Regions from separate parts of the Homo sapiens genome. Here region 2 is linked to region 1. A link means that fine-mapping ties the variant in region 1 to the expression of a gene that starts in the linked region. Tissue or cell type: stomach. Region 1 holds a variant in brackets; the other region holds the start of a gene. All regions are shown on one strand. Distances are between the middles of the regions.

The links. PIP is the estimated chance that this variant, and not a neighbour inherited with it, causes the effect.
Region 2: it holds the start of LINC03060, and the variant in region 1 is the best candidate, but not a certain one, in a credible set for the expression of LINC03060 in stomach (GTEx, PIP 0.64).

The regions. Positions count from the first base shown.
Region 1 is chr7:134,372,267-134,377,892 of GRCh38, reverse strand. The region is part of intron 1 of LOC105375518 (a long non-coding RNA gene); the gene reads right to left. It overlaps LOC105375517 (a long non-coding RNA gene), which reads left to right and starts at 3,542. Exons shown (of 4, transcript XR_928000.4): 1 at 3,542-3,959; 2 at 4,753-4,831. The variant G/A (reference allele first, on the strand shown) is at 3,440.
Region 2 is chr7:134,429,247-134,434,872 of GRCh38, reverse strand. LINC03060 (long intergenic non-protein coding RNA 3060) reads left to right here and starts at 2,453. Exons shown (of 3, transcript NR_183392.1): 1 at 2,453-2,559.

The DNA.
Region 1 (5,626 bases):
CAGATCGGATGGAATTGGATCTAGCGTGAGTGAGAGGGATGTTGGGAATAACATACCCAAGGAAATCTGGTGTTTCAGACTTGAAAAAGCTGCACTATATGGGAAGTTTCTCAGACAAGTCCTAGATAGGCAGGCACTGCTCTGGGTCCTCTTACTGACAAACTCTGGAGTGCTGTAAGTTGTTTTGTGAATGGATGTCATATGATGTGGTGGATTTCCCAAATTTCTCAGTATTTTTTTCCTTTTTGGAACAGAAGGGCCATCAGGAAAAGTCACCCTCTTGTCCTGTGGGCTTCACACAAGTGAAAGAGCTTCTATAACCATTTTTTTCAGGCACAGCCTGAGAAAGATCCCTGAAAAGTATCATTTAGGTTCAATACTTATCAGCATCACATTTTACCAAAAGCTTTCAGTTACGCTGGAAATCTTTCTTTTAGGTTGTTAACACAAATATAAAATTATGTCTATTCTCTCACTGAGATTTGGGGAATTTCATTATTTATACTTCTCTGACAGTCCAAGGGAAACATTGCTCAGATATGAGTGTGTAAATGGGAAAGATGGGGGGATAACAGGGGGATACCTCTACCCCCCAACCACCACATTTCTACCTCTGCCCTCTTTTTGCTACTTTTACTAGCTCCTCCTCCCCAAGGATTGATTGATCAGACTACAGGACATTCATTAAGCCACAAAGTAGCAGAATTTAGGATACCTGCACCTGAGCCAGTAACCTGGACTCTACTGTCTCTCCTCATTCTTGGAGGGCTTAAACAACCATCAATAGAGTGAAAATCTGTGATAAAAGGGGTCAACCTTGATCACCTCTCACACTGCAAGTGGCTAGGATTGCCATACCTTCTACAGAACAGGAAACAGAGAACCCTAGAAACACACTACAAAAGGCATCAATTCTATATTTAAGGAAAGTCAATCTGCTAGATACATAGCAAGGTTCTCATATAGTGCCTGCCACTTAGATGCTCACTGAACAGTTTTTGAACAAATAGCTGAGTAGGATAATTTGGATTTATATCTGATTATTTTTTTCTCTCATAATCAAAATAAGCCTGATTTTTGAATCCTGGAAGCACTGCCAACTTTCTTTGTAGCCTCAGGCAAGTTTTCTAACCTCTCTGAGATTAGTTTTCTCATCTATAAAAAAGAGGCAATGATGATAATAATAATATCCCACAGTGTTGTTGGGGAGATCAAATGAGAAAATCATGCAAAAGCTCCTGATAAATAATCATGGTAATAATGTTAAGAAACCTTCATATCTCTCCCCACCCTATTTGCGTAGTTAGTGAACTTGACTGGAGCACTTTTTGATTCCTTGTTTCAAAGTTCCTAATAACAGCAGAGCACTAGAGTCATTAGAGCATATAGACATCCGGCAATTGTGAATTTCCCCAAGCCCTTTGTTACTAGAATTTTAGTTCTGCCACCAGCCATCTGGTAAACCAAGTCTGCTTCTCTCTCCCAGCTATGTTTTCCCATTTTCATTTGGTGAAAGAATCAGGAACTGGACTATTTTTTTTATTATTGTTATTATTATTACTATTATTATTGAGTAGGCAATACATTGGCTCAAATATCAAAATGAATAAAAAGCCATGCATTGAACAGGCACACTCTCATCTCTGACATTGCTCACCCCACTTCTCAGCTTTCAACCCTTACTGGTAATCATTTTTATTATTTTCTCCTATATTCAGTTTTTTTCCTTACCATATACAAAAGGTAGCATACGGTTTATAGTGGTCTACATCTTACTTTATCATCTAGCAATATAAACTAGAGCTCTTTCTGTATTAGAACATACAGGGGTTTGGGATGTGTTTTTTGTAACAACTGCATGGGATTCTGCTGTGTGGATGTACCATGGTTTATTTAACAAATACCCTATTGTAAACACTCAGGCTCTTTCCAGTCTCCCACTATTACAAACAATACTGCAATAAATAATTTTGTACTTAAGTATCTCATGTGTGTGCAGATAATCAGGAAAAATAAATTGTCAGAAGTGGTTTTGCTGGCCCACAGGATAAATGCACTTATCATATTGATAGATATTGCCAACTTGGTCTTCATATGAATTCTACCATATTCTACTCCCAGCAGCGAAGTCTAAGAGCTTGAAACAAGCATGTTTAAAGCAATTTAACAGAAGACAAATGAGAAAAATTAATGAAAGTTAGCAGAACCAGGGGCAAGGAGCATTGATACATTGTAGGTTAAAATTGCATTACGTATTAGAAATGGAAAAGTTAGGTACTGGTTGTACTGAAGGAAAGGATATGAGATTTTTACAGCCCAAGCAGCCCTTACACTACAGTCTCTAACAACAACAGCAACTCACCTGTGTGTAGCGGGTCACACTACAAAGCCCTTTGTGTACATTAGCTCAGTTGGTCTTCACAACATCATGTGACGTATGTGAGAGAAACAGAATTAGTTGTCCTAGGTGAAACAGATGGATCCCCGCAGTGCTGGGACTTGAGCCAATCTTCTGACTCAAGATTCTGGGCTTTTTTTGGAAGAAAACCTAGGTGGAGGCAAAAGATTCCTACCACTCATCACAGTCCATCCTCCCCAGCCACCCGCATGCATCTCATTCATCCAGTCGCTCACTGTCATTCCCACTTTCCATGTCATTTTTGACCCCAACTGTCTTAAGGGTGGTGAAGCGGTTCTCTTGCCCTGCCTTCAGCCCACCTCTGATTTCAGTGCAGCTGTGCTGGGCCATTCTGATATATACTGGCTGGACACTCGCCCCATGCCTTCACTTTCTTGCTTAGGGGCAACTTCTGAAGTTCGTGGATCTTACTCAGTCTGGAAGTGTGGGAGGGGCAGTATTGAAGCTTATGTGGGCGATCTTCAACCAGTGGGGGACAGGAGTTAGAGGGTAAATGCCCAGCTGGCGAGGTAATCTAAGAAGCATCCTACAGGGTTCCTCAGAGAGGAGCCTGGTGAGACCAAGCCCCAGCTACCACAGCTGTAATGAGCTCCATGACATCCCATTGCTTTTCTTCCCTCTGCATCTCACTCTCTCTTCACTCCCTCACTCCTGCTTCTTGGGATTTCCTCCCAAAAGGCCATCTACACTGAAGTCCTCGTCCAGGCTCTGCTTCCAGGGCAATTCTAACCAAGGAAGGTGGGTTTATGTTTCAGGACATGTCAGTATGTATGGGTAAATAATCAGGTAAGTTTCTGGGGTGGGAGATTTGAGAAGGGGATGCAGAAGCTGTATGCCATCTTGAGGCAGTGGAGAAGCATGAATGGGAGGGAGTCAGGTAGATTGAACTATTCTTGGCTTTGCCTCTAAGCTGTCATGTGATCCTGGGCAAATCATTTACCCTCTCTGGACTTTAGTTTCCTCATAGTAGAATGGAGATAGTAAACAGTCCTTGCTGCCTCATAGGGCTGTTAAGAGTGT[G/A]TCCCATTCAACCTCTATCGGGTGCTCAAGGTTTTTTCTTTCCAACACCCACTCCACCCACTGTTTGGGGAGAATAACTGATTGGGTCAAAAGCTGGACTCTGACTTACAGGAAGAAGTTCTTAGGAGGAGGATTAAAAAGATTTAAATTCCTATTTTCTAAGTGGAGTAACTTCTCCTTAGTGTGGTCTTGTCTTAGAGCTATTCCTACCTTGGATTTTGGGGGGTTTTCTTTTTTAAGATGGCCTTATTCTCTTCTCCTCTTCATATGCCTGGTGCCATAAGATCTGGAGCTACCCCTCCTAGAAGGACCCTGCCTTTGGGAGCATTCAAGGACCAGGCCAGTGCCCTGTGTAGGAGATGCATCAAGTGTGTAGCTGGGACCAGATCTGCTTCAGTCCCTCAGAAGAAAGGTTCTGAGTGCTACTACTCAGATGGCCAAGACCATGGTGTGTGCCTTAGGGAAAGGGGACAGTGACACCCTTCCCCTGGCTCCAAACAAGGCCTACAGCTTGTGAAAGGTAAATTAATCTTGGGGTGCCAAATTCACTAAGCTAAAGGGTAAAGTGAAGCTGGGAACTGCTTAAGGCTAACCTGCCTCCCATTTTATTCAAAGTCACCCCTCTGCTCACTGGGATAAATGCTTGTGATTGCCTCCTTTGGAGAGGCTAATCAGAAACTCAAAAGAATGCAGCCATTTGTCTCTTATCTACCTATGACCTGGAAGCCCCTTCCCCGCTTAGAGTTGTCCTGCCTTTGCTTCGAGTTGTCTCGCCTTTTCCAGATGGAACCAGTGTTCAGCTTATATGTATTGATTGATGTCTCATGTCTCCCTAAAACGTATAAAACCAAACTGTGCTCTGAGCACCTTGGGCACATGTCGTCAGGACCTCCTGAGGCTGTGTCATGGGCACGCGTCCTCAACCTTGGCAAAATAAACTTTCTAAATTAAACAAGACTTGTCTCCAATTTTGGGGATTTACAAGCTCAGGGTACAAATGAAATAATTGACAGGTGTCCTGGCCCAGCCAGCTTGCCAGGGATAAAAACCACATAGGGGTGGAGTTGGGGAGTAAAGCAGCCAAGTGCCTGTATCACAGGCAGGCACCCCTGCAAGGGAGCCCCCAAGAGTGGTGGTGCCCTTGGGGACTTGGGATCCAATTCCTTCTCCTTCTCTAAGAAACACAACCACCAGTGAGAATCAATGACATAAAGTGTAACGGGGTCTGGAAAGTGGTGTAAATATTACTATGGGACAAAAACTAGGCGTCAAGAAGGAGCAGTGCCTCAGGCCCTTTCTCCTTTCTCTCCTAGGGCTCTGCTCAAGTCCCTGCACCAATGCAACCTGCCAAGGGAAAGCGCTCACCATGGTTCTGTCTTGACCTGCCAGTTTGTGAGTGATTCACACATTTTAATACCCAAATGTGCAGTCTCTGTTGCACATCGCTGTTACTTCTAGAGTGGGAAAGAACTGGGGATGTTTCAGCCTGAGGGCCAGGAACTGTGCATAACCCCAGCCCAGCTTCCCCAGCCTCCACTTACACTGAGCAGCCTGGCAAGGGACTATCAGACTTGTGGGCAACCAGGGCTAGCCTGGGGCTTCACTTGACCAAAGGATTTGGGGCAGTTTCTTCAAAATTTGAGTCTGCCCATGAGACTGTTGAATATGTAAATGTCATTCATCATGTCTATTATGGTGGGAAAAAAAAAGACATTGAGAATCATTGGCTTGGGAATGGCTCTTTGACATGGAGTCCCTCCTATTTGGCTGGGCTGAGCACCAGTGCCGTAGTACTGTTTGGGTACAACAGAGGCTACTCCAACAAGAAACTGAATGTGCAGCTGCCTTCAGTTGGAGAGTTTGTTTCTTTCTCAGTACCAGGTCCAAGGTGGGCTGTCCAGGTGGGAGGGGCAGCTCTGTTCCTTCCACCTTGTTGCTCCATGATTTCTTAGGGCATTGGGTGTGGATGGCTGAAGTTGAGTTGCTGCCATGCCCATATTCCAGCTTGCAGAAATTTAGGAATTTAGTAAATGTCATGAATTTGGGGAGACAACTTGCAGTCTGCAGTTCCACCCCAGCCAATTATTCCCCACTCCCTTCTATTTAGTCATTTCATGTAGGACCAATGCTACTGATTCAGGAATACCAGAAAGCCAGAGTACCCAGGGTAGATATATTACCGAGAAT
Region 2 (5,626 bases), 57 kb before region 1:
CGTGGCCTTCTCTCCCAGTTACCGCAAATCAGCAGGTTGTGACTTTGCCAGGGCTCTCAGAGGCCATATGGTCCCAGCCTTCGTTGTACAGGAGGGATCAGGTGATTTTGTCAAGATCAGCCAGGACTAGAACTCTGCAGATCTTTATCCAATATTCTTTTTCTGTAGGTCACCTACCTCTTAGTCTGAACACATGATTTTGAAAACCCCAGGCCATCCACTCGTGGCCTAATCTGGACTAGAGACCAGATTGTTTTGTTATCCAGTGGGAGGCTGTATGGTTCAAACCGTGTTTCTGAAAAGGCCTGGATTTCCTCCCTGGGCTGAGGAGGCAAGGAAGGGGTGGTGTAGGTGTCCTCTCTCCCTGTCCTCACTGCCTCAACCAGAGCAAATTCCCTTTTATCTTCTTTGTTGAAATTGTATGTACGATTTCATTTGTGAAAAGGGTTCTGATTCTTTAAAAAACTTTAAGAAAACTTAAAATCCATTCCATGGAAAACCAAGTGGGATCTCTTGAACTCTCTCTGTCCATTTCCCAGATTTTAGTACCATTCAATAAGTATTCTTGGAGTCCTAGTTAAATGCCTAGTGTTGTGGCACATGCTAAGGGACATATAAAAAGAGATTATTTGGCTGGGCGCGGTGGCTCATGCCTGTAATCTCAGCATTTTGGGAGGACAAGGAGGGCAGATCACCTGAGGTCAGGAGTTTGAAACCAGCCTGGCCAACATGGTGAAGCCTAGTCTCTATTAAAAACACAAAATTAGCCAGGAGTGGTGGTGGGCACTTGTAATCCCAGCCACTCGGGAGGCTGAGGCAGGAGAATTGCTTGAACTCGGAAGGCGGAGATTGCCGTGAGCCAAGATTGCACCATTGCACTCCAGCCTGGGAGACAAGACTTTGTCTCAAAAATAAATAAATCAATGAAGTTGTTCTATTCCCCAAGGTGCAGATTTGCAAATTAGTCATGGGGTAGCTTCTTGGAAGAGGGTAGCATTTTCCCTTAGAAACAGCTTTATATATGATGTTTCATGTACGATGTTCCTACCATCCTATTTAGTTGCATCTTATTTCTTGGATGTCCCTGCAGAAGGGTTGCAAAAGGATAGTACGATAAGATCTTGGTCCTTACAACTTGTTATTTTTCTGCCACGAAAGTAGAGGAGATTTCTTTCTATGTGTGTATGGGTAGCTCTAGGTGAAAAACTTTGCATAATTTTCTGTACAGGGAGAAATACGGCAATAATTTCTTCTTCTTCTTCCTCTTTTTTTTTTTTTTTTTTTTTTGAGACAGGGTCTTGCTCTGTCACCCAGACTTGAGTGCAGTGATGCGATCATGGCTCACTGCAGCCTCAACTTCCCCAGCTCAAGCAATCCTCCCAGTAAGCTTCCCAAGTAGCTGGGACTACAAGTGTGCACAACCATACCTGGCTTTTTTTTTTCTTAATGTAGAGTCTCACAATGTGGCCCAGGCTGGGCAATAATTTCTTCATGGTGGGGTGAGGGAGGACAGAACAGGCCATTCTAGGTTAGATGTTTCTAAGTTGGGCACAGCATGTGTAAAGCCTGTTCGTTCCTGGGACTGTGTGGAGGGCAGATGATATTCCTACCAAAAAGAAAGCAGGTGAAAAGTTAGATAACATGAAGAGTTGAAGGAAGTACGTAGCTCCAACTACTGTGTGGTAGAATTCTTCCCTGACCCCAGCACCTGCCCTCTCGATGTATGTGATTCAAATGCTGCTTGGCTAGAATGGGATATACACCAGCTGGTCTCTGCCGGGTCCCTGGCCTGCCTTCCTCACCAGAACATCCCTGACAGTGCCTAGGCAGTCTGGGTGCGCTTGGTCCTACAGCAAGGACCGGTAGGCTTCCGAGCACCATGGCCAAGCAAAGGGGGCGAAGGAAGCCTCGGTCATCGAGTTCAGCCTGTGTGAGCAAAAGGAAGTCCCCATCCACACTCGCCACTCCCCGTCCTTAGCCTCCTGAGCTTATAGTGTGGTGTATGCTTCCCCCTTCTGGCCACAAATGGTCAACAATGATTTTTGGTAATCCCTGGTGGGAGGCCCTGCTTACTGCTGGGAAGTGGACCTTCCTAGTAACAGCGACGACAATGATACTGTTGCCAGAGCTATTGATGGAAGTGGTACAATCCAATAGGTGCAGTAAAAAGCCCTTTACATACACTGTCTCATTTAATCCTCAAAGCCAGGGGTCCCCAACTCCCGGGGCCACAGACCGGTACCAGTCCATGGCCTGTTAGGAACGGGGCCGCACAGCAGGAGGCGTGCGATGGGCGAGCGAGCAGAGCTTCATCTGTTTTTACAGCCACTCCCCTCTCGCATTACCGCCTGAGCTCCGCTTCCTGTCGGGTCAGCAGCGGCATTAGCGTCTCATAGGAGCATGAACCCTACTGTGAACTGCGCATGCGAGGGATCTAGGCTGCGCGCTCCTTATGAGAATCTAACGCCTGATGACCTATCACTGTCTCCCATCACTCCCAGATGGGACCGTCTAGTTGCAGGAAAACAAGCTCAGGGCTCCCACTGATTCTACATTATGGTGAGTTGTATAATTATCTCATTATGTATTAAAATGTAATAATAATATCCCGAAACCACCTCCCCACCGCCAGGTCTGTGGAAAAATTGTTTTCCACAAAACCAGTTCCCGGTGCCAAAAATGTTGGAGACTGCTGCTCAAAGCAATTTTGTAAGGGATGTATTATTATCCCCACTAAACAGAAGACAAACTAAGACACAGCAGTTAAATGACTTGTGCAAAATACGTGCTGATAAACGCAGCAGGGCGGGGGTTCACGCCTAGGTGTGTCAGGCTTCAAAGTCCGCGCTCTGGGCCACTGTGAACATTCCCGTTTCTGACGGGCTGTATTCTGGGTGGGGTATCCTCTGTCAACAGAGACATCTGTCAGACCATTCCTGCCCTTTTACTTCCATCAGTCCACATTCTGGCATCTTCCGTGTCATTTTTCCTCTTCACTTCTTGTGCTCCTCGGCAGATCTATGACCATCCCAGCCTCTTTCTTTTCTTCCTGATCTTTGGGCAATTCGCCTCCCTCCTGCTTGCTTCAAACATTCACTCTTGTGCAGCAGTTCTTTTCTTATTTATTTATTTTTTGAGATAGAGTCTCACTCTGTCGCCCAGCCTGGAGTGCAGTGGCGCTATATCGGCTCACTGCCACCTCCGCTTCCCAGGTTCAAGCGATTCTCTTGCCTCAGCCTTCTGAGTAGCTGGGATTATAGGCACCTGCCACCACACCCGGCTAATTTTTGTATTTTTAGTAGAGATGGGGTTTCGCCATGTTGGCCAGGCTGGTCTTGAACTCCTGACCTCAAGCCATCTGCCCGCCTTGGCCTCCCAAAGTGCTGGGATTACAGGTGTGAGCCACCGTGCATGGCCCATGCAGCAGTTCTTAAACTGGCACCCACAAGAGGTCTGGATTGAATCCGAGAGGTCTGTGAACATGGACATGGAAAATATTACATTCTATCGTGAATATAGAGAACAGAAGTGGGGCCTGTAACTTTGTCACAAATAGAAAGTCACAGCTCTTGCTATATCCCATTACTGTTACTAGGAATATCTCACGATGTCATCTATGTGCATCACTACTTTGAAATTACCAGAGTTATTAAACCTGTCACTAGACCTGTTATTTAGTCGTTAATAAAAAGCCTATATATTATCATATTACAAATTTGGTTTTTAAAAATATTGTGATAGCAGTCTTTCAAAACTAAAGAATTCCTTGGTAATCTTGTGTGTTTAATTTTATGTACTTAAAAACATTTTTCTTAGAAGGGCTCCAAAAGCTTCCGCAGCTTGCCAAGGGGATCCTGGCATGAAAAATGATGAAAAGAAAACACACTATCCTTGATTTTATGCCAGCTTTGCACCTCCTGACCCAGCCCATATAATGTAACAGTGACCCCCTGTAAGAGGGTTGCACTTCTCCAAATAGGAGGACCACAGGATTTCTCTTCCAAACAGGGACATTTGAGTATAGATAGAGTGATACTAGCATAACAAGAGTAAACTGGAACATATGGCCACCCCTCTCAAATATCAGGTATTCTGGAAACTGAAGAATTAGATAAGAAAATGCCAATGTAATTTACAAGAATCAACATAGAAACACCCTATCTGTAAATATGCTACTGATAAAACTAGATTGTCTCCTAAAATCCAACCAGAAAAAAATAACTAATATGAAATATATCAGCTTCAAATGAAATAATTATAGCATATAATAAAATAACGAATACTAGTGTATCACTTGCTATGGACAGACATTGTCTTACAACAGCCCTCTGAGGTTGGTTCTATTATTGTCCTCACTTTAAAAATGAGGAAAACGTGCCCCAATCACACAGCTAGAAAGAGGCTGAGCTGGTAGCAAATCCAAGCACACTGGCTGCTAACTGTGTGCTCTGACCCACTGTCTCTCGTGTGTCTTTGTTAGGAAATTTCATGATCCGACTGGAATCCAGGAAAATCACAGCTGAAATACAAAACATCAGCCCTTATCTCCAGCACTGTACATGGCAGAAACTGCTTTTATTCTAGATGTCTAGATCCAGGTATTTGAAATAAATTCTCCAGAAGGGGGGGAGAAATCTGGAAAGTTTCCATAGAACAGTTGCAATATCCCTTTATAACTCTTGAGTTGTAAGTGATGCTGTCTCCAGATATTAGCCTTTTTCTTTTAGCTACAACCTCTAGCTCCCACGTCAGAGGCAGCATGGGCCAGTGATTAAGAATCGGGTTTGCAGTTCCAATTCCAGGCACCTATTTAAGCTGGATGACCTTGACTAAGTCGCATAGCTTTTTGCACTGCAGTTTTCACATCTGTAAAATGGAGATAATGCTAATGGAATGCAAAATGCAAAATGGAAATAACGGTGGTGAGGAGTAAATGAGCTGGGCAAATACACAATAATCAGGAACGATTATTACTATCCTTTTACTCATCTCTATTCTGACAGTTTTGTCTCCAAACCCATCTCTCTTGTCTTATTCTGAGTTCTTCCATGCGTTCTGGCGTTTTCAACTTGACTTCTTCTTCAATATTTTTCATCATTTGGTAGCTATCTTTGGGTAATAATTATAACATTTGCTTATACAGCATTTGCCCCAGAACTCGTTTTGCTGAGGCAGCATAAACTGACAACTGGAAGTGAGAATGGGGACATGTGATCTCGTGATTATCACACATTCTCAATTTACCCACTCCATAATAGCATTTGCACCAGAGCTCTTCATTTGCATTTTGCTGAGCCAACGTGAATTTTTAGAAGTTCCGAGTGTCCAGAGAATGCTTCAGTTAGAATTGAGTTGACAAAAAATAGGATAGATCATTTATCACCTCTGTAGAAACAAGATGAATTTCTGTTTACAACTGAAATAAGAAATTACAAAAGATTGTTGGGCCTGACCACATGAAAAATTAAAATAGTGCAAAAGAAAAATAATTCAATACAAAAAGGGAAGCTACAGGCTGGGAGATGTTTACATCGATATAAAAAGGGGTTAATAAATATGCTTTATAAGACACATCTTTTAAGAACATCTTTGTTGCATCTCCGCTAAGAAGGAGGGTATCACAACC